Regions from separate parts of the Homo sapiens genome. Here region 1 is reported to be linked to region 2. The links are microRNA targets in miRTarBase. Many come from high-throughput screens and were not tested one by one. Region 2 holds a microRNA gene; the other region holds the end of a gene's coding sequence.
The links. Region 2 holds the annotated microRNA hsa-miR-4517 (AAAUAUGAUGAAACUCACAGCUGAG, at 4,476-4,500, opposite strand). A microRNA usually pairs through its seed, bases 2 to 8, with sites in the 3' UTR of a target mRNA and lowers its output. Matches are read on the target gene's strand: a 7mer-m8 pairs with bases 2 to 8, a 7mer-A1 pairs with bases 2 to 7 and ends in A, and an 8mer does both.

Region 1: the mRNA of KCNC4 is a reported target of hsa-miR-4517. Seed matches in the 3' UTR shown: 7mer-A1 at 2,564-2,570.

The regions. Positions count from the first base shown.
Region 1 is chr1:110,230,643-110,242,102 of GRCh38, forward strand. It overlaps KCNC4 (potassium voltage-gated channel subfamily C member 4), which reads left to right. Exons shown (of 4, transcript NM_001039574.3): 4 at 2,269-3,402. The coding sequence ends at 2,330. Among named protein-coding and RNA genes, the nearest start is that of KCNC4, 26 kb to the left of the region's middle. RefSeq lists enhancers at 4,280-4,780, 4,781-5,281 and a silencer at 5,793-5,902.
Region 2 is chr16:28,951,627-28,963,086 of GRCh38, reverse strand. It overlaps MIR4517 (microRNA 4517), which reads right to left and starts at 4,504; the gene lies at 4,426-4,504. NFATC2IP (nuclear factor of activated T cells 2 interacting protein) reads right to left here. Exons shown (of 8, transcript NM_032815.4): 2 at 10,883-10,955; 3 at 8,405-8,522; 4 at 7,029-7,109; 5 at 6,750-6,936; 6 at 4,226-4,370; 7 at 3,987-4,096. It overlaps NFATC2IP-AS1 (NFATC2IP antisense RNA 1), which reads left to right. Exons shown (of 2, transcript NR_186408.1): 2 at 8,089-10,185. RefSeq lists a silencer at 572-780.

The DNA.
Region 1 (11,460 bases), not on the chromosome of region 2:
CGACAAGATGCAGCATTGCCAGGCTGGAGCCCTAATGCCTCGGGGAGCTGGCTCCCACACATCCCTCCTGGCTCTCTGGCTTCATCTGGGAGAGATAGAACCCAGATAGCAGGAGGGCTGAGTAGACTGTCTGCCCTTACAACCTCTCAGCACCTCTGGGCCTGCCCAGGGCCCTGGGAAAGGGCAGGGTGAGCCCAGGCATTTGCAGAACCCCTGCATACCAGGCACTGCCACAGGAAGTGGCTGCCTGTACAGGCGTCAGGCTCACCCAGGCCTTGAGCCTCCCTCCTTGAGAGAAGGCTCTCTCCCACCCACCATCTGAGAGTAGAGTTTGTTTTCCTTGGGCTAGACTTGGACCTGCACCCACTACTTTGTTGTCAGATGCCTTTCCCCTGCAGCTGGAGCTCAGCCCCTTCCCACAGAACTGGGAGGCAGTCTGGGTAGGAGTTCACAACCTCGCCTTCCAGTCTGTAGCAGGGTTACTGGCAACCTAGAGACCAATTTTCAGGGCTTCTGAGAGGTAGAACCAGAAGGAAGGGCACTGCAACCTAGAAGCTGGCTGACAGGAGCCAGAGGGGAGGCCATGGACTGGCTGCAGGGCCCAGGCTGCCCTTTCACAGAGCTTCCTGGGAGAGGAGGGCCTGCTCTGCTCTGGCCAGCGTCACCCTCTGAAATCCCTGCCCCACCCCTGGTGGGTCAAATAGGTAAGAATCCAGGATGAGATTCCTAGGAAGACCCCTCCCCAACTCTCAGAGGTCCCTGAGGATGGAGAGTCCATGGAAGCCAGTGGAAAAGCAATCTAAGGCCATTATCTCAGTATGGGCTGCTCTGCTCCCTGGCTTCTGGGACACTTGACAGCCTTGCTGTGACTCCTTCTGTCTCATCCTAGACCCATCCTAGACCCCTCAGTAGCCCAGGCATTCTCACCGGTGCATCTTAGGGCCTAATTGCCTACTGGGAGCCCAGAGGCACTTCCCTGTCCCCTAATGAGTGGGGATCAGTGGCAGGTGTTGCTTAAGTTACGCAGACAGGAGTACAGGGCAAGACCACAGCTCTGTCTGCGTGTCCTCAGAAATGGGGCTCTGAAGAACCCTGAATTCCTCTGATTTCAAGGATAGTACTCAGAGGCCCAGAACACTTGTAGGCAAAGGGGCAGTGTTTAAGGAGGTGGCTGGGGCATACAGTCTTAAGAAGATGGAAACAGCATCACCCCAAGATGAGGACACCCCTTCCCTAGAAAGGTGATGGAGGCACCCCGAAGCCCAGGATGGAAGCTGTGAGGTCTGGATGCCACATCTGCACTCCACCTTGACAGGAGGCCTAGCCCTAGACCTCAGACCCGAGAGCTGCAGGGGTTGTCCCAGCGGGTCTGGAACTCCCACCTCCACTGTTGACCCAGATCTGCAGCTGGGACAGCAGTACTCCTACCTGCCCTACCTGTGCTCCCACTGGTAAGGTAGGGGAAGGAAAGGCCCAGGTGGTAGACATCCCAGGCTGAGGGTGGGATCCCAAAAGGGCTCTCTGAGGGGTTGGGTTTCTCAATAAGGTACTATTTCCTGACCTTCTCTCCTGAGACAGGCACATTCGTCCTCCGTGACCTTCCCCTTCAGCATTCACCTGAGGCTGCATGCCCTCCAACTGCTGGGACTCTGTTCCTGCCACATTGAGGAAGGGGGCTGGGCACGACATGGCATCATACTCAGGAGCCTTCTTCACCAGCTCCTTGGGACAATGGAATATCCCAGGGTGGTGACAGCAGATGGAGCTACTTGGGGGAGAGCTCAAGTTGGTCAGGCAACAGCTGGGGTGATGGCCTGTGAGCCACAGGCCACATCAGGAACTTTCCCCACTGCCTCCATGCAAGGCTGCAGAGCTATGGTCCCTTTCTCCACTGCACTGGAGCTTTGAAGACCTAAGAGGCTAGTGGTTCCTGGAGCTAGTGGTTACCTGAACAGGTATGGCGATGAGCTACAACATCACCTGAGTCACCAGAGTTGGGTTGGCAGAGGGGTGAAGGGTTCACCCCATTCCCTGACCCATCCATGCTCTTCCTGGCCTTTTAGCCCTGGGTTCCTCATGCCTTCCAGCTCTGCTCCTGGTCTACTCCTTAGCCCACACCCTGTGGGTCAGCAGCTGGCTTCCTTCTAACGTCTCATTCTTTGTTTCTCCCTTTCTTTTGCTGAACTCCCTGTCCCCCCAACCCCAGAAGGCAATGTTGAGCCGAAAGCGTGCGTCCCAGTGTCTCACACCTGTGCTCTTTAAACACAGAGACCTGCCAAGACGCCCTCTCGTCCAACTATGCCCAGGCTGAAGTCCTCACCCTCTCTTAAAGCGGCACCAACGTGAGAGAGACAGGCAGACAGACAGAAAGCCAGAGGCTTAGGGAAACTCTGGAACCCAGACAAGAATCTTTTCGCTGGGAAAGACTCAGATATCCTTGTTTGCACAGGACTGGTGGAAAATCTCCCATGCGACCCTCGGGGCCCAGAGCCATCTGGGTCTGATGTTCTGTTCCATTGTACATCGAAGAGATATATATGCACATATAGTATCTATATTCATACATATTATACTCTTGTGTGTAGTGCACGTGCTATTGGTGGTTTGTCTTCTTTGTTAGGCTGTGTCTCCCTAAGCCCTTGCCCCACCCAGAGTTTCCCGTCCCCTTCACTGATTTCTGTTGTTTCTGCTGACTGTGTGGGTGGAATGTCCCAAGAAAAGTGCATCTGGGAATTGCCAGTCCAGCTGGGTAGTCCCAGGCTCCTGTCTTGGGGATGTTTCCCCTGTCAGCAAGTAACCTGGTGAAGTCTATTGAAGGCCAGACTGCCCCCTAGGGTCACTGCTTCACTAGCCGCACCCCACCCCAGATTGGGGTTCTACCTCCCACCCCACATCCTCGTTGTGGGGGGACTTCCAGGGGCTCCTCTGCAGCCTCCTCCACTACTTCCTCCACCCCATCTATGTCCTTGACTTAGGGGGGCATTTTGTCTTTTTTAGATTTGATTTTGTTCTCTCTCCTTTGTCTGTTTGTTGTCAAAGATGCTGCTGGGCAGACAGGCAGGGAAAGGATCTGTCTGCCCATCTGGCCCAGGGGGTCCGAGAAGGGAAGCCTTGGGCAAGAGGAGACCAGTTGCAATACTGTACTTCCTGGTCAGTGGCCAGAGGATGCGTGCAATAGCAGAGGCCAGGTGACCCCTTCAGCCTTGGCCTCTGCCCCTCCCTTGGCCCTCCCTCCCTGCTCCTCCCTGGTGTTGGTCAGTCCTTTTCTAAAGCTGTCCCCTCGTGTGTGTCTGGGGCATGCCCAGGCTGGGCCCTGTGCCCTGTCTGCATGCCTCCAACTGTCATGCTGTGCTCGAGCCCCAATAAAGACATCTGGAGCATCCTGCTGCTCCTGCTGTGTGAGCACCTGCCTCTGCCTCTCCTTTCTGGCTCTGTGTCTATTGGGACCTCCTGGGGCTCTCACCCCTGACACCTGAGGAGTGCACACACTCAGCATAACCCCACTCCAGCAGGAATCATCAGTGTGGCCTGACCCCTGCATTTTACAGGGAGAGACTAGTGCTCAGAGAGGGCAAGTCATCTGCCCAAAGCCACACAAAGAGGACTAACCCAGGACCCCGAGACCCAAACAGTGTTCTAATATCCACTGCTGTCCCCAAGCCCCTGCCATAACATGGAAGAAAAGACTGTTCTTTGTTTAAGGAATTCCACTGCATTCCGTTTGTGCAGGGGGCCTCCCCTCCTCCCTGCAATTGTACCAGTTCTAAATGGGCCAAGACCCTGGGGACGCCAAAGTTATTGGCTGGATGGCTGATGAACTGAGGCCAACTAGAGACTGGTGGCACAACTGGGGACCACTTAGGGATGGAGAGTGAACACATCCTGGGCCTGGATAGGACGGGGAGATGGTGAGTGATGGTCAGACGTGGCCCTTGGCTCTCACTGTTGTTATCCCTCTCACGTTCACATAGGGGCACACGCAGGGCCAGCTTCATGGGTGTGCAACCTGTGCAGCCACTCAGAAGGGCCCCATGCTGGGTTTAATGCTTGGCTGTCACCATCATGAAATTAATAATGGTTGAACAGGGGCCCTGCGTTTCCATCTTGCACCAGGCTCTGGCGGGTCTGGTTGCCTGCTTGCCTCTCCTTATTCTTGTCTTACTCCTCACTCTTACTCTGGGCATCTGTGTAGGACCATAGGGGCCTCAATTCAAAGTCTTGCTTTGCTGCTTGCTAGCTGGGTGACTTGGGGGTGACTCACCGAAATGGTTTCCCTGTTTGTTAGGGAATAATGATGGCCCCTGTTTCAGAGACAGAGTGAAGAGCCTGGCCTGGTGTCATGTGTCTACCTGTGATATGACATATAGTAGCGGCACAGTGTCAGCTCCCTCCCTGCCCTGTTCCTGTCACTCTCAGACTTTTCTCCACAGACTTCTGAGATCTCCGTGTCCAGCTGCACCAAGAAAGGACAAGAACACACCCGGGAGCTGTCTTGGGCAGTGTAGAACAGCAGGGTGAGGACGGAATGGCCGAGGAGAGGGAAGAAGCCAGGGGAAGCCTGTTCCTGAAGTGTAAGGAAAGATCGGGCTTGGAGCCTGGGCCAGCCGAGGCAAGGGGGTGGCAGGCAGCCAGTGTCAATTAAAGATAAAATTTCTCCTCCGGTAGTGGAGGGCAAACAGTGGCTGTGGCCCCCCTAGACAGGAGAAAGCCATTTGCAGCCAGGCTGGCCTTGGAAAAGCTTGGCCAGGCGATAATGGGACGGGATGCGCTGCTGACTCCATAATGATATTACGCATCAGGGCCCACGGCCAAAGTGGCTGTTTTTTCTGTAGATCGATGTGGAACCATTTCATGGTCAGGGGCTGAGAACCCAGCCAGCAGCAGGGGTACTAGATGCCAGAGTGGTCCTGAGGGGACTGAAGGGGTGGCAACTGGGGTCCCCAGTGACCGTTTCAGGCTGCTGGAAGAGGAGGGGGCAGTGTGCAGGAGGGTGGAGGGGTGGACGAGAGAAGCAGCAGACTGCCCCTCCTCCCCACCTCACAGAAACAGCAGGCCGTGCTGTCAAGGAAGAAAGGGCTCTGGCTTCCTCCTGTTCCCCAAAGCTGGAGTCGAGCCCAAGGTAGGGAGCTGGTTAAAAGAACAGGACATTGTTTAAAAGAATAAGACAGACTTTTGAAGTCAGGCAGACTTGGGTTTGAGTCCTGACTCCATCACTTCCTTGTTGTGTGACCCTGGGCAAGTTACTCAGCCTCTGTGAACGTCTATTTCCTCATCTTTTAAATGTAGTATCTGCCTGAGGCCGTGTCTCTCTCATTGAGCCATGAGGAGAAATGAGTCGGCGCCTGTAAAGCCTCGCGCACAGTGCCTAGCACATAACCATTGCTAGAGGGAGAGGGGAGTATTTTGGGGCAACTCACTCCAGTAACAGATGACCAGTTTGGTTTGATGACCTCACTTTTCAGTGAATCAGCCTCATTTCACTGAAGTCCTTAGTCCTTATCTCCTTGTGAAGGAATAAGAGGGGATGATTATACCTAACAGCGAACATTTATTGAGTGCTGGGCAGTACATTTCATGCTTATAAAGATGCATTCCAAGATTGATGTTATCCTTACCTTTGTTTTACGAGGAGAAAACCAACACAACAATGTCAGGTCATTTCTCCAAAGTCACACAGCCATTAAGTAGCAAAGCTGGGATTCAAACTCAGTCTGGCTCTGTGGGTCCAATGCTTAGCCACTCTCTGAACTGAGTGGGGCTTGTGAGTCATAACCTCCAGTGTAGGAGTTTGTGCTTTTAGTGTTATTTCCTTAACTGCAATTGATTCTCATAGCAAAGGTATTGTTTTCCCCTTTTACAGATAAGAAACCAAGGCTTGGAGAAGTGAATCATTAAACTCACTCTCCCTTTTACGTGTATGTACCCCACCCCACACACACATAAAGCGAGGAGGAATGTCCTCTTGGGATTCATTCATTAATTAGCAGCAGGCAACACCCAGCTCAGTGACTGCTTGGTTCCTTCCCTCTGCGACCCCACTGGAGTTTTATTCTCTGACGCACAGAAGTGGGTAAGTGGGGGTAGGACTGCTCTGGAACCCAAGTTACATGAGGAGTGGCTCAAGCTGGAGAAGTCTTGGAAACCTGATCCCAACTACCAGGTGTTTAAAGGGTACCTGTGGGGAAGTGGGTTTAGATTCTTCTCTGATTGCAGAGAGCAGATCCGGAAATAATAGGTGGAAATGTTAGGAGGGCAGATTGGGTTTAAATTTTAAAAAATCTTTTTTTAATGAAATTTTTGATTTGTAATTTTTGTGGGTACATAGTAGGTATATATAAGAACCTTATTTTCTGTTGTTTCCCTTGCTATTATAAATTTATTACTGCCAGTCATGGTGGCTCATGCCTGTAATCCTAACACTTTGGGAAGCTGAGGAGAGTGGATTGCTTGAGGCCAGAAGTTTGAGACCAGCCTGGATAACATAGTGAGACCCCATCTCTACACAAAAAAAAAGAAAAAGAAAAATTAGCCAGGTGTGATGGCATGTGCCTGTAGCCCCAGCTTCTCGGGAGGATTTCTTGAGCCCAGGAGGTTGAGGCTGCAGTGAGCTATGATCATACCACTGCACTCCAGCCTGGGCGACAGAACGAGACCCTGTCTCAAACAAACATTTATTTAATACAAGGTATTGGAAACCATCCCCATACCAAATCAACAGGGAATCCCCTGTCACCCTTCCTCAGTCCCACTTTCCTCCCCAGAGGTGACATGGTTAACATCTGGTGTGGGTCCTCCCAGGCTTTTTGGAAAAAAAAAAAACTTTCTAACAAAATTACCAAATCAAAATGGGTTTCCCTGCGGGGTAGTGAAGTTCCCTTCCCTGAAAATGTTTGGAGACACAGTGGATGATCATGTGCTGCACCAGGGTTCGTGGGAAGTATTTCTGCTCGGCGTGGGAGGTGGAATTAGAAGACTGTTTCCAATCCTAAGACTTTCTGACTCACGTGGCACACACAGCTAGTTAGTGGTGGAGGCAGGTCCAGAACACAGGTATTCAGATGGGGTTCAGATGAACTCCTTTCCTAGCAAGATTTTCCTTAAATTCTTCTCTGCCTCTTCCCAGCCCATCAGGGATATAGGGCAGGGCAGAGAGACATCTGTGTCTCCTCTAGTCTGGAGCGAGGGGAGTGTCCTGGGCCTGGGTTGTGATGCCATCCAGTGCCCACCCTCGTGGGGCTCCTGTGGCATTATTGCAGTGAGCACTTTCTTTCCGTTCCTGGCTCCAAGCCCTGTGTGTGCATACACTGGTACCCACACAAGAGGTAGCACGTGAGCTGGCTCAGTCACTTGGGGCTGTGGTAACCGCATTCAAAATGCAGCATCATGCTAAAGAGCCGCTGGGGACTCTGGGGACAAGGCTGTCTCCGACCCAGCTTTAGGGGGTGAGGAGAGGGAGCCAAACGGCTACAGCTGCAAGTCAAAGAGGTCAGAGGCCTTCTGATGTTGGCACTGGAAGCCTCTCCTTTCTTTCCCCACAGGTTATGGGGGCTTCTCCACTCCCCGCTCTTACTTGCCTGCTTCTCCAGGGATCCCTAGAAGAGCAGTGGTTAGCAAGCATATGCTATAGCCATCAAATACGAGTCTACAGAAATGTAGGCTTCCCCTTGGGGCTGAGTTAGGGCCTCTGCTTCTGAAATGAGCAACCTCTGGTTGCTGGTGGGGGCTAGGGCTTGCTCCCTTTCTCTCCTCACATACTCTTTCCTGGGTGACCTCATCCCCTCCCATTGCCTTAAACATCTTCCAGGTACTGGTGTCATCCACTTGTGTAGTTCCAGTTCAGAAATCCCGTCAGCTCCATTCATTCATTTGTTCATTCATTCAGCAAACATATGTGGCATCTCTGTCCCAGGTACTGCTCTACAACCTGGGTGTACAATAGGGACCCAAACAGACACTCCCTTCCCCATGCACTCCCTGCTCACAGACACACCTGCGTGGCAGTGCCTGGGTGTCTTCACAGCTCCCTGATGCCGAGCTGTGATCCCACCCTTCTGCCTCCCTGGTCCCCCTCAGCGTGCTGCCACCATTCACCTTGAGGCTGAGATAGATGTTGTCAAAACCACCCTCTCATTCCTTAATTCACTCACTCATTTTTCGTGCATTAAATCTTTATTAAACACCTGTGAACTCTGTCCTCAGGGAAACAATGGTGAACAAGACCAACAGGATCCCTGCCCTCATGGGACTTACATTCTAATCAGGGAGAGAGGCCAGAAGACCAATAGATAAAAAATATCTCCCACCCGTATTCCAACCTATTACCAAGTTCTACATTTCTAGCTCTGCAGGAGCCTCCTCCCAGGTCTCCCTGGGTCCCATCTGCCCTTCTGCCACCAGTCTCCACCCAGTCACCAGAGAGAGAGCTTCTTAAAATGGAAACTGGATCAGATCATGTCACCCCTGCTTAGAACCCTGTCAATGGCTGGGTTCCCACTTCGTGTACAATCCAGACTCCTTAGGAGGGCCTGTGATGCCCTGCTGCTCCTCATGGCCTTCCTGCCTCCGCAGACCTATTCATGCCCCTGCTCTCAGCCCCTGAGACCAGCAGCTCACTTTCCTGTCAGTTTCCCACACATCCCCAGCTCTCTCACCTTCAGTGTTTTTCCACTTGCTTTTCCCTCACGGGGACCACTTCACCCCAGTCCAGCCCCACCCCACCTCCTTCTCTTGGCTGAGAAGGCCTGGCTGTAAATTTCACTTTCTTGGTGAGGCGTTTTCCCCTCACACATCCACGCCCCTCTGCCTCTGTCAGTTTCCATCACTGCAGCCAGTGCATTTTCTTCATGGTACTTACAGTCCTTTGTAACTATGAATTGTGTATTGCCTGCTTCCCTGTAAGTTGCTAGGGCCTATAGGGGCTCGGTAAATATTTTATGAACAAATGAATGAATGGGCTGGAGATAGGCCTGGCATGAGCAGCTGCTGAACTCCATCCTCTCTTATTCCTCGCAAGCTGTCTCCAGCTGGCTTTTGCACCTCATTTCTAGGGCATTCCTGGGAGTCCTTGGGGAATAACATGAACGCTCTTCTTTTTACATTATGCATTTCCTGCCTGAGAAACTGTCAGAATAATGAGGAAGCCTTGGAGAGAGAGTTCCCATAGCCCTTCCTCTCTCTTCCTTTTAGAACCTACCATTTTCTACCTGGTACTTTTTGGTACTTGTCAAATTCCCCTTCCCACAGTGGCGAGTTGCTCAGAGGTGCTGGTTCATCCCAGCTCCCACTCGAGGGCCTAGCTTAGTGGTCCATGCAGAGTAGGTGCTCAGCGAAATGTTGAAGTGAATGAAGGATATGGTGAGAAAGGAAGCAATGAGTAAGAAGGAAGAGTGAGAAAGAAGGAAAGAGGAAGAGGAGGGAGGGGCAAAGGGGTTGATGAAGAGTGAAGAAGCAGAGGGAGGGAAGTGAGGTCAGGGAGTGGGAAACGGGGAAAGAGAACCCTGGCCCGGTGTCCACCTCAAGCCAGCACCCTACCCCACTCCTTCCAGTCTTCCTGGACTCGGAGCCTCCCAGGCCTGCCCCAGCCTTAGGTGGGACAGCAGGGTTCCTCCAGCCTGCCACTGACACCAAGGGCACCCTGAACTCAGCTCAGACCCCAGGCTGCCCGGAGCAGGAGAGACTGCTCCTGAAGAGACTTCTGCAGGGACGAGAGCCCAGGATTCCTTAACCTGAGGCCCAGCTCCATCCCTGAGATCCCTAGAGACTCCCCTCAGCTCCCCTCCCCTCAGCTCCTCATATTGAGCCCCTGATCCAAGGACGATTAACTCCAAATCCAGCATCAGTGATCAAATGTTCATAGCAAACAAAGGAAAACAAACACCACCTTTCCTCCTTGCCTCAGCCCTGGGGCCCCAGAGGCTTGGCTCAGAGACAGGTGCCCTGCCTCCTCCCCACGCCCGGCACAGGCCTGCCAGCTGCCCCTCGAGAAGACCAGGGGCCAGCCTCAGAGGCCCGGAGGATCTGTTCCCAGAGTAGCTGTTGCCACAGTGACCCTCCCTGGGGTGGTGGCTCCTAAGCTGCCATGGGAGGCAGAGCTGTGCCACTACCACGACGACCACCACCACCACCAGGGCTGCCACCACAGCAAAGCTGCTCCTGGGGCCTCCCTCCTAGTTAGGCTGCCGAGAGACCAGTCTGTGCTATCCTCTCACCATGCCAGGCAGCCACAGTACCAGGGAACAGGAGTCACAATCAGCCCCCTTCCAACACCCCGGCAGCATCCCGCTGTCTGCCCCAGGACCCGCTCTTCCCCTGAGGGGATGACACTGCCCCCCTGGAAAATTGATTAGGGACCTCATTTCTGTCAGCACCCCACTAGAGATGGCAACCAGCTCCCAGGGCGCCTGGGGGCGGGATGTTGAGGGCAGCAGGGAGGTAAGAAGGCTCCAGTGATACCAGGCTCCCTCTGGGCCTCGGTGCTAGGTGGTGACAAGCTGGGTTTCCCTGGACAGGACTGGAAAGTTGCTCTCTAATACTCTCTATCTTTCTGCTTGGGTTCTTTCCCACCCCTGCCAGAGGCTCTTGCTAACTACTGTCCCCTTACATACTGGCACCTAAACATAAACACACATTTCCAGAGTCGTCCTGCTCTCTTCATTTTCTGACCTATGCACAAGAAAGTATTTTGTGTCAGTCATCAGCACTCTAGTATGAATTTAGGGTCCATGTATATTTTATTTCCCAGGAGATAGGACTGTTGACCTTCTCTCAACTTGTGGAGTGACAGCCTTGTTCTCTGTGATAGGAAGTCCTAGCACCAGAGAGCTCCAAGCAGGATAGATAATTTTTTCGATTAGGAGAGGAAGAAATCCAAAACTTCCTGTGTGGGTCAAATTAGGGGCCAGAGCTCTACAAGGAATTCTGGCCTGACTCCAATTAACAAAGAAGGACGTGGAGCGCAAAAGAGAAATCCAAAGTGATATGCAATGGAGGCTGCCTCTGTCTGGAAGATCTTCCTGCTCCTTGTGCTCCCCTCTTACATTCTACTATTGTGTCCTCAGCCTGGCAAACTCTTACTCATCCCTCAAGGCCCACTCAACTGTCACCTCTGAGAATCCTTCCTGGGCTCTCCCAGGTAGAATTCCTCTGTCCTTTATGCTCTCACAGAACCTTGAATATTCCTCCATTATAGCACTTACTGCAGTGATAACTTGTTGCTTGTTTACTCATTTATGGATGCTTTCCTTATTAATGTTTTTACCTCCAGCCCCTGCTCAGTGGTCAGGAGCTCAAAGGTGAACAAAGGAATGAGTGAATGAGTAAGGAGTGAATGAATTAGCTGCCCTCTGCTGACTTCTGCCCTTCACCCCTGTCATTCTAGTCCATGGTTGGGTTGTAAGATTTGTCCAGAATAATTATCCGGGATGCTGGACCTCTCACTCTGCCATCCCACCACCATGTGCC
Region 2 (11,460 bases):
CCTCAGCCTCCTGAGTAGCTGCAACTACAGGCACAGGCCACCACACCCAGCTAAGTTTTTGTATTTTTGGTAGAGACAGTTTCTCTGTTGCCCAAGCTGGTCTCAAACTTCCTGAGTTCAGATAAGCCACCCACTTTGGCCTCCCAAAGTGCTGGGATGACAGGCGTGAGCCCCCGCACCCAGCCTGGGACTGGTATGCTTATGGAACAGACACAGAAACAGACATGAGGGGAGAACACACGTGATGACAGAGGCAGAATGGAGTGCACCTGCAAGCCAAGAATGCCAAGGACTGTGGGCCGCCAGCAGGAGCCAGGAGGAGACAGGGCAGATTCCATGAAGAGACCCTGAGGGACTGCGTGATGTTGTCAAATATATATTTGGTCTTTGTATGTTTCCTGGTATAAAATTCCTAAAATCCCTGGGAAAGAGTTAAGTATCTTTTTGCATGCTAATGAGTTGACTGGTGGCTGGCAGCCCCTAGAGAGCTTCAGGAATGGTGCTGGTCACTAGAAAGACCAAGGTAGGATAAGACAGTTGGGACTTTTTCCCCACCCCTCAACCTCCAAGAAGGAGGGAGAGAGTGAAGGTTGAGTCACCACCAATAGCCCATGGTTTAATCAGTCATGCCTATATAACAAAGCTTCCATAAAAATCCAGAGGACAGGGTTTGGAGAACTTCCCAATAGTTGAACATGTGGTGATTCCTGGAGAATGGTGCCCAGGGAAGCTATGGAAGCTCTGCGCCCTTTTCCCATGCTGTGCCCTACACATCTCTTCATCTGTATCCTTTGTAACATCCTTTATAATAAACCAGTAAATGAAAGTAAGTGTCTCCCTGAGTTCTGTAAGCTGCTCTAGCAAATTAAACCCAAGGAGGGGGCGAGGTGCAGTGGCTCATGCCTGTAATCCCAACACTCTGGGAGGCAGAGGTGGGAGGATCAGTTGAGCCCAGGAGTTTGAGTCCAGCCTGGGCAACATAGTGAGACCCCGTCTACACAAAAAAAATTAAAAAATTAGCCAAGGGTAGTGGCACACACCTGTAGTCCCAACTACTCAGGAGGCTGAGGTAGAAGGATCGCTTGAGCCCAGGAGTTTGAGGCTGTGGTAAGCCAAGATCGCACCACTGCACTCCAGCCTGGGCAACAGAGCAAGACCCTGTCTTTTTTTTTTTTTTTTTTTTTTTTGAGACGAAGTCTAGCTCTGTCGCCCAGGCTGGAGTGCAGTGGCTTGATCTTGGCTCACTGCAACCTCCGCCTCCCAGGTTCAAGCGATTCTTCTGCCTCAGCCTCCTGAGTAGCTGGGACTATAGGCGCATGCCACCATGCCCGGCTAATTTTTTGTATTTTTAGTAGAGACAGGGTTTCACCATGTTGATCAGACTGGTCTTGAACTCCTGACCTCGTGATCCGCCCACCTCAGCCTCCCAAAGTGCTGGGATTACAGGCGTGAGCCACCACGTCTGGCCCTGTCTCTTTTTTGTTTTTTTCAAAAGAAAAGAAAAAAATCCTGAGTTTGTTTTCTTCCCCCATATCTTCAGAGACACTTGCTCTGCTAACACCTTGATTTCAGACTTCTACCCTCCAGAACAATGAGAGAATAAATTTATGTTGTTTTAAGCCACCCAACTTGTGGTACTTTGTTACAACAGCCAAAATACAAAAGTGGGGTGCTGCTGGAATAAATGGTTAAATGTAACAGTGGCTTTGAAATTGGATCAGGGCTGGAATAATTTTTTTTTTTTTTTTTTTTTTTTTTTTTCAGATAGGGTCTTGCTGTCTCCCAGGCTGGAGTGCAGTGGCCCAATCTCAGCTCACTGCAGCCTCAATCTCCTAGGCACAAGCGATCCTCACACCTCAGCCTCCTGGGTAGCTGGAACTATAGGCCTGCGCCAGCATGCTGGGCTAATTTTTGTATTTTTTGTAGAGGCAGGGTTTCACTATGTTGCCCGGGCTGGTCTTGAACTCCTGAGCTCAAGCAATCTGTCCATGTTGGCCTCTCAAAGTGTTAGGATTACAGATGTGAGGCACTGTGCCTGGCCAAAGCTGCAAGAATTTTGAGGTGTATGTTAGGAAAAACCTAGACTGCCTTGAAGAGACTGCTGGTAGAAATATGGACATTAAAGGGAATGTCCCTGCAGGCTCACAAAGAGGAGAGGTGCAGAGAAATCTCCTATCATCTTAACAGGATGCATATATTGTTATGAACAGAAGGCTGCTAGAAATATGAATATTAAAGGTGTTTCTGGTGAGGTCTCTGGAGGAAATGAGGAATGTGTTATTGGTAACTGGAATAAAAGTTTCCAATAAAGGTGGCGCAATCATGGCTCACTACAACCTTGATCTCCCAGGCTCAAGCAATCCTCCTGCCTCAGCCGCCTGGGGAGCTAGGATTACAGGTGCTGGGGTTACAGGTGTGAGCCACTGCACCTGGCCCAATTTCTCACTTTTGAAATGGGAATGTCTATCCTATGTCTGTCCCATCACTGTATTTTAGAAGCAAATAACTTATTTTCTAGATTTCACGGGTCCGCAGAGAGAGAGAGAGAGGAATTTTGTCCCAGAATGGACCATACCAAGTCTCATCCAAAACTGATTTAATGATTTAGAAAATAAGATTGGGACTTCTTGAGTTGATTATATTTAAATGAGATTTTGGGCTTAAGAGTTGATGCTGGGATGGGTTAAGACTTGTAGGGATATTGGAATGGGATGTATATATTTTGCAGATGGGAAGGCCATGAATTTGGTGGGGGCTAGAGAACAGTGTGTTAAGGGTTGAACTGTATTCCCCTGAAAAGGCACTTTGTGGTCCTAACCCCTAGTAAATGTGAATGTAACCTTATTTAAAGTAGGGACTTTGCAGATATAATCAAGTTGAGATGAGGTTGTGCTTGGTTAGAGTGGGGCTAGCCCAACATGACCTATGTCTTTCCAAGAAGAGAGACGAACACAGACAGAGACACATGGAGAACACCGTGTGATCACAGAGGGAGAGACTGGAGTGACACAGCTGCAAGCCAAGGAACTCTGGCCACCAGCAGAAGCTAGAAAGAGGTAAGGAAGGTTTCCACTCAGATTCTCAGACGGAACCAGGCCCTGCCAACACCTTCAATTCAGACTTCTAGGCTCCAGAAGTGTACAGGAATAGGTTTCTATTGTTTTAAGCCACCCAATTTGTGTATTTCGTTAACAGTAGACTTAAGAAATGAATGCAGCAGGCCAGGCGCGGTGGCTCACACCTGTAATCCCAACACTTTGGGAGGCCAAGGTGGGTGGCTCACTTGAGGTCAGGAGTTTGAGACCAGCCTGGCCAACATGGTGAAACCCTGTCTCTACTAAAAATGCAAAAATTAGCCCAGCACGTGCACCTGTAATCCCAGCTACACGGGAGGCTGAGGAAAGAGAATCACTTGAAACTCGGAAGGCAGAGGCTGCAGTGAGCCAAGATCATGCCAGACTTCAGCCTGGGCGACAGGGCGAGACTCTATCTCAAAAAAAAAAAAAAAAAAAAAATGACTGCACCAAGTTGCTTATTCCACCTCTCTAGAACTCAATCTTCTTATTGCCAAATGAGGATAACAACAGTGCTTTGTGGCCCACATCAGATTGTTGTGAAATTAAATAAGATCCTGAATGTGAGGAAATTATCCTCAGCACGGGGACTAGCACTTAGCCGTGTGGCCTTCATTGTTATTTTGATGGGTTTTATTGATTACCGTCTAAGGGTCCTTTCTGTTTTAATCAGAAGGAGTCAGGAGACCGAGGGAGCACCCAGACTAGGGCAGAGGGTACCAGTAGAAGCGGGGAGGGAAGTTGAACGATGGGTTTTCCCACTACCTAGGATGGCTGGGAACCCAAGAACATGGAGGGCAGTGTCTCCTGCAAGTCAAGATTAGGGGAATCCATCCTCCATTAACTGACAAGAGAGACAAGAGGCAGCAGAGGACAGGGTGAGGGGCGTGGAGAGCCATCTCTCCCACTCACTCGAGACAGTGAGACTTCCAGTGTCTGGTGTTTCTCCTTTCCCTGCACCCGGAGCTGGAGCTGTTGGGACGTCTCTGTGGCCTCTGGAGAACTTGTTAGTACCACACAGTCTGTGGGAGGCAGAATCAGGAAGCCAGGGCTAAGTGGGGGCTTGGAAGCAGGGCCCGTGCTGAACCTCTCCCCATATCCCCTTCCCCTGGCAAATGCCTCAAGGCCCCACCTCCCTGCCTTCCTCTCACCAATGATGTCAGCCACTCCGAGCTTTAGGGTCCTGGGAGTGGCAGTAGGTGATAGCTCTGTCTCTCCAAAAAGCAAAAGGATCCTGCTTGGGGACACCCCAAGGTGGGTGGCCATGTGGTCCACCACACTCTGCAGGGGCTCCGACTAGGGATGGGGACAACAAGCAAAAGAGGTCTTCCTGCCTTGAAATCCATGCCCCCAGCCACACCACCCAAACACAAGCTCTGGCCTTAGCTACTTGCTAAGCTCCTCAGCTGTGAGTTTCATCATATTTACCTGGCAAGGTATAGAATAAAATCGTGTCAGCAAGGGGTACAGGCGAGTAACACAAAGAAATATAGCAGCCATGGGTTAGAACAAAGAAAGGGGTGGTGGGGATTGCAGCAAACTGGAATTCACATGCCACCTAGACAGGCTGGCTGTTACGCAGCTCCAGCTGATTGGCACTGTGTGGGAACGTGGGCCAGTATGACATCTTCCTATATTTTTCTTTTTTTTTTTTTTGAGACGGAGTTTCGCTCTTGTTAACCAGGATGGAGTGTAGTGGCGCAATCTCAGCTCACTGCAACCTCCGCCTCCCAGGTTCAAGTGATTCTCCTACCAGGCTGGTCTTGAACTCTTGAATTCGGGTGATCCACCTGCCTCGGCCTCCCAAACTACAGGGATAACAGGTGTGAGCCACCGCACCTGGCCACATCTTCTTATTTTTTAAGAGAAGCCAGAAATCTGGACCTTTTTTTTTTCTTTCTATTTTTAGTAGAGGCGGGCTTCACCATATTGGCCAGGCTGGTCTTGAACTCCTGATCTCAGGTGAGATCTGAGGCAGAGTCTCGCTCTTTCATCCAGGCTGGAAGGCAGTGGCACCATGCCCAGCTAATTTTTGTATTTTTAGTAGAGATGGGGTTTCACCATGTTGGCTAGGCTGGTCTCGAACTCCTGACCTCAGGTGATCTGCCTGCCTTCACCTCCCAAAAGTGCTGGGATTACAGGCGTGAGGCACTGCACCCGGCCAGAAATCTGGACCTTTGTATGAAATCACCCATCACAAAGGTGACAACAAACTCGTATATTTTTAAAGCACTTGGTCAGGCATGATGGCTCACACCTATAATCCCAGCATTTTGAGAGGCCGAGGCGGGAGGTTTGCTTGAGGTCAGGAGTTCAAGATCAGCCTGAGCAACAAAGCAAGATCCCATCTCCATTTTTTTTTTTTTTTAAGAGACAAGGTCTTGCTCTCTCACCCAGGCTGCAGTGCAGTGGCATGATCACAGCTGACTGCAGCCCCCAACTCCTGGACTCAGAAGATCCTCTTGCATCAGCCTCCCAAGTCGCTGGGACTACAGGTATGTGCCACCATGCCTGGTTAATTTTTTTATTTTTAGTAGAGACAAGGTCTCACTATTTTGCCCAGGCTGGTCTCGAACTCCTGGCCTCAAGTGATCCTCTCACCTTGGCCTCCCAAAGTGCTGGGATTACAGGAATGAGCCACCATGCCTGGCCCCCATCTCTATGTTTAAAAAATAAAATAGGCCAGGCACGGTGGCTCATGCCTGTAATCCCAACACTTTGGGAAGCTGAGACAGGGGAACACTTGAGATCAGGAGTTCAAGACCAGCCTGGCCAATATGGTGAAGCCCTGCCTCCACTAAAAATACATAAATTAGTCGGGCATGGTGGCGGGCACCTGTAGTCCAAGCTACTCGGGAGGCTGAGGTGGGAGAATCGCCTGAACCTGGGAGGCGGAGGTTTCAGTGAGCAGAGATCGTGCCACTGCACTCCAGCCTAGGCGACAGAGTGAGACCCCGTCTCAAAAAATAAAAATAATAAAAAATAATAAAATAAAATAAAATAAGTCTACAAAGAAAGCAGACACACTGTTGGAAAAGCCATGGGCTGCCAGTTTGCAGCCTCTGCCTTAGTTGCTTGACTGATGCACTGTGCATCAGTAATGGTAATGTCTGTTATCATTCCTGGTGTTGAAACAGGGTCATCCCTACAAAAATATCAGGCTTCGCCAGGAAGCTGGTGGAGTTCAGGGTGACTGAGTGACATCTGCTGTGTCCAGGGCAGTGAGAGCAAGCCCAGGAGGGAAGCCCAGGTTCCTAGGGAGGAAGGCAAGAGAGACTACCAAAAAAAGCTTCTTAGAAGACAGGATGCTTCACACCTGGAATCCCAGCACTTTGGGAGGTCAATGAGGGACGATCACTTGAGCCCAGGAGTTCGGAACCAGCCTGGACACAGTAAGACCACTTTTTGAAGGAAAAAAAAAGACACAGGATGCTTATGAGGAGCCTTGAAGAATGGGTAGAAAGTTTGCCAGAAAGAGAGGGGAGCGTTGGGAAAATGCAGACAGAGGAAACAAAAAGTGTGAAGGCAGGACAGACTGAAAAGAATGATGGGCAGCTCTAGAGAGCAGGATGGGAAAAGGATGACAGTCCCTTCTGCCAGGACACCCCTGCTGGACACCACCATCTCTCCAGAAGCAGCTCCTGGGTCCTTCTCCCATGGGCCTCAGGCACTCACCATCCTGAGGGGCAATCTGACCAGGTCAGCCCGGCAACGGATTTTGAGTGGGAAGAGTCGGGGGGTCTCTGGGAGGGTGGGCCCTTCCACCAAGACCACTTCATCCTCTTGGCCCTGTTGCTCTTGACCCTGAGGTGGCTTGGGGCTCAGACAGGAACGGAGATCCTGGAGGCGCTTGTTCACCTCACTGCAGTGCAGACAGGACTCTGGGTCAACTGGAGTCAGCCACCCTCCCGGATTGCCCTCTTCCATCCCAGCCAGAGCCCCTGCACTTGGCACCTTAACTTCTTGAGTGCCCGAGTATGCGTTCTGCTTTTGGTCCTTGGTGAAGGTGGGGACAGAGGAGAGTTGTCCAGATCCCTGTAGAAGCAAGAGACAGCAGGACGGAGGCAATGGAGAGAGACTGGCCCCACAAATCCTAGAAATCAGATCCTTGGACAATCAAGCATAGTCGGACGCAATGGCTCACACCTGTAATCCCAGCACTTTTGGAGGCTGAGCCAGGAGGATCGCTCGAGCCCAGGAGTCCAAGACCAGGCTGGGCAAGATGGGGAGACCCTATTTCTACATAATTAGCCAGGCATAGTAGAACACAGCTGTAGTCCCAGCTACTCAGGAGGCTGAGGTGGGAGGGTCGCTTGAACCCAGGAATTTGAGGCTGCAGTAAGCTATGATCACGCCACTGCACTCCAGCCTGGGCAATGGAGTGAGGCCCTATCTCTAAAAATGTAAAAATACATTTAAAAAATAAAGAGGAAGCAGCTTCCAATAACCCCCATTTCACTGGAAGGCAGGGGTAGGGGAGAGGGAAAGCCTGAGGCATCATTTTTATATTTACATGACCTGAATATTAGGGAAGAAAATGCCTCATTTTTGAGACTGTCACTTCCCAGGAAAATGTCCAATAATATCCGACAGACGGCAAGCACTTACCATATGTCCAGTGTTGCCCAGGCTGGTCTTGAACTCCTGGGCTCAAGTGATTCACTCCCCTTGGCGTCCCAAAGTGCTGGGATTACAGGCAAGAGCCATTGTGCCTAGCCAAGTGTTAACTCTTGATTGACTCAGCAATTCATTGACACAAATGCCACTATTATCCCCAGGTTTGGGGGTATTTTTTGTCTGTCTGTTTGTTTGCTTTTTAGAGACAGGGTCTCACTCTGTCACCCAGGCTGGAGTATAGTGGCACGATCATGGCTCACTGCAGCCTCTAACTCCTGGGATCAAGCGATTTTCCCATCTCAGCCTCCCGAGCAGCTGGGATCACAGGCATGCGCCACCATGCCAGGCTAATTTTTTTTTATTTTTTGTAGAGACAGGGTCTCTCTATGTTTCCCAGGCTATAAAACGGGGTTTTATAGATGAAGAAAGAGAAGCACAGAGAGGACAGGGAAGCTGGATTGGAACCATACCTTAAGCTCACATTACTAGGGTCTCAGAATCCACTCCCAAGGGTGATCCTGAAGGGTTCACTGTCACCCTCCGGGGTAAGCCACCTCTTTTCCCCAAGCGATTCATTCCCCACATGAAACTCAACAGTCCTTCTATCCCTTCTTCTTAACCTTTCAGGAGTCACCCAAGAGTCCTGCCTGCCTCCGCTTACCCCTCCAACTCACTTCCTGCTCCCAGGGCCCAAGGGCCCTGGCCTCACTCACAGAAACTCTGTCTTTTTCTTCTCTTCTTTATCCTTAGTCCTCAGCTTTGTCTTCCAGGGAGAGCCTGGTGATGGGGAGCCCTCATGGTAGAGACCACTCGAATCTGCCAGCTCTGCCTCTGGGGGCAGAGGAAGAGAAGGTAGAAGGGGGTTATCCAAGGGAGGCCAGCGAAGGCCAAGAAGAAACAAGTCAGAGGCTTCAAGAAGGTCCTAGGAAAGGAGGAGACCACGGAGCCCCTGGCACACACAGGGCCACATGATAATATTGGGAAAGGGGGCAGGGGATGAGACTGCTATTTAGTATAAAGATAGCTCATATTAACTTAAAATTAACTTAAATTTCTCATGAAAGGAAACCAGGTATTATTTTCTATAATATAGAAATTTCTATTTGCCCGCTGTCAATAAAAGATCATCACAAACCACAAAAATAAATACTGTGAAAATTAAAAAATGATAAGAAACCCTAGATCAGTGGCTCTGAACCAGGGACAATTTTGCCTCTGCGGGGACATATAGCAATGTTTAGAGACAATATTGGTTATCAAAATGTGGAGGGCGAGGGGGCTGAGGTATAATACTTCCCAGGGATGGAAGTCAGGATGCCGCTAAACTTTCTACAATGCACAGGACAGTTTCCAACACCAAAGAATTTTCCAGTCCAAAAAATGCCAGTAATGCTGAAGTCATGAAATCCTGTCCTAACTAACTATGGCAGCTGCAAGAGGCCTATGATTCTGCATTTCGTTTTTCTTTTTTTTTTTTTGAGACCAGGTCCTACTGTGTCACCCAGGTTGGAGTGCAGTGGCATGATCATGGCTCACTGCAGCCTCGACTTCCTGGGCTCAGGTGTTTCTCCCACCTCAGCCTCCTGAGTAGCTAGGACTACAAGTACACATCACCATGCCTGGTTAATTTTTTATTTTTCTGTAGAAACAGGGTCTCATCATGTTGCGCAGGCTGGTCTCGAACTCCTGGGCTCAAGCAATCCTCCCATCTCAGCCTCCCAAAGTGCTGGGATTACAGCACTTTGAGCCATTGTGCCCAGCCGATCCTGCATTTCTAGCAAGCTTCCAACGGATGCCATATATGGCTGGGCCCACGTTTTGAGTATCAGGGATAGAGGTACCTTTTACGTAGCACTTCTGTGTCCTAGGTACTGTCCTAAAGCATATATCTAGCCAAGAGGCAGCTCTCTCTATATTCCCTTTCGTTAATTCTCACCAAAATCAGCACCAAAATGGGGTCTACTATTATCCCCACTTTGATAATGAGGAAATTGAAGCACTGAGAAATTAAGAAACTTGCCCAGGCTGGGCGTGGTGGCTCACGCCTGTAATCCCAGCACTTTGGGTGACCAAGGCAGACAGATCACCTAAGGTCAGGAGTTCGAGATCAGCCTGGCCAACATGATGAAACCCCATCTCTACTAAAAATACAAAAAAGCCAGACATGGTGGCGGGCGCCTGTAATCCCTGCTACTCGGGAGGCTGAGGCAGGAGAATGGCTTCAACCTGGGAGATGGAGGTTGCAGTGAGCTAAGATTGCGCCACTACACTCCACCCTGGGTGACAGAGTGAGACTCTGTCTCAAAACAAGAAAAAAGAAACTCGCCTAAGATCACACAGCTATTAAGAGATAGAGCTGAGGCCGGGCACAGTGGCTCACGCCTGTAATCCCAGCAATTTGGGAAGCTAAGATGGGCGGATCACCTGAGGTCAGGAGTTCAAGACCAGCCAGGCCAACATGGTGAAACCCCATCTCTATTAAAAATACAAAAAATTAGCCAGGCGTGGTGGGAATTAGTCAGCTACTGGGAAGGCTGAGGCAGGAGAATCGCTTGAACCCAGGAGGTGGAGGTTGCAGCGAGCCGAGATCGTGCCATTGCACTCCAGCTTGGGCAACAAAAGCGAAACTCTGTCTAAAAAAAAAAAAAAAAAAGAGAGAACTGAGATTCAAACCCAGGCCAGATGGCTCCTGTTTGCTTTTAATCACCCCACTGTACTCCCTCATGGTACAAGAGTCTTGGTCCAAGGTCTCCATTTGCCCACTGGATTATTTCCTTATTAGACTAGATTCCTATTCCCCGCCCTTGAGTTGTTTGCAAAAAATGCATCAGTGGGGGAGGACAAAGACAGGGCATCCCTGATAAGATTCAGAGAACACCCTGCTGGCTCCAGTGTTCCCAAAGAACTTGCTGCAGATGTAACAAGATGTCACAGATTCTCAACACCTTACCGCCTCCTGCCCCGCCCAGGACTACAGAATCAGCATCTCTTCAGGTGGCACCAGAAATGTATACATTAATACATTCTATGCTTGTTAACAATCCAGCTCCTGTGGCTGGGATGCAGGAGTCCCCTCTCCCACGCTCTTCCCTTGAGCCTCAGGAGACAACTGACTGCAGGAATATAAACCCCAGGAATTCTCTTAAGAGAAGCCAGCGGCTGCGTGCCTCTCCCTGGAGGCCCTCCCTTACCTTCCTCATCCCCTGGAGGGTAGAGTTTCAGGAGGGATAGATCATCTGGGATAAGGCGAAGGCTGCTTTTAACCTGCAAAGACAAAGAAGGGAGAGGGGTCAGGCCCAAGTCCTTCCCCTACCGAAAGAAAAAATTGGGGGTAATTCTTCCCTGACACCCAGCTCCCAAATCCTCCCTAAGATCGTGGACACCTTGGCCCTCTCCTGGCAACCTAGAAGTCCAGCTTCCCCAGGATTCAGAATGGAAGTACCCTTCACCCTTTCCTCCATCTGCCTAAGACACTCTGAAATGTATGCTTCCTTGCCCTTTTTAACTAGGTTACTAGCCGCCCCTCTACCCCTGACTCTTAGGGACTCTCAGCCCATTGCTCACACGACCATCGGGGGACCCCAGCCTCTGGAGCCGCCCAGTCCTCTCTGAACCCGCATGGACCCCAACCCCCAATACTGCAGCTCCCTGGCTTCATTTGCCATGGACCCCAACCTCAAAATCCAACGGCCCCAGGTCCTCCCAGTCCCTCTCCAAAATCTCAGGAATCCCAGCTCTTCAGCCTCCCTGTGCCCCCAAGACTCTAGCT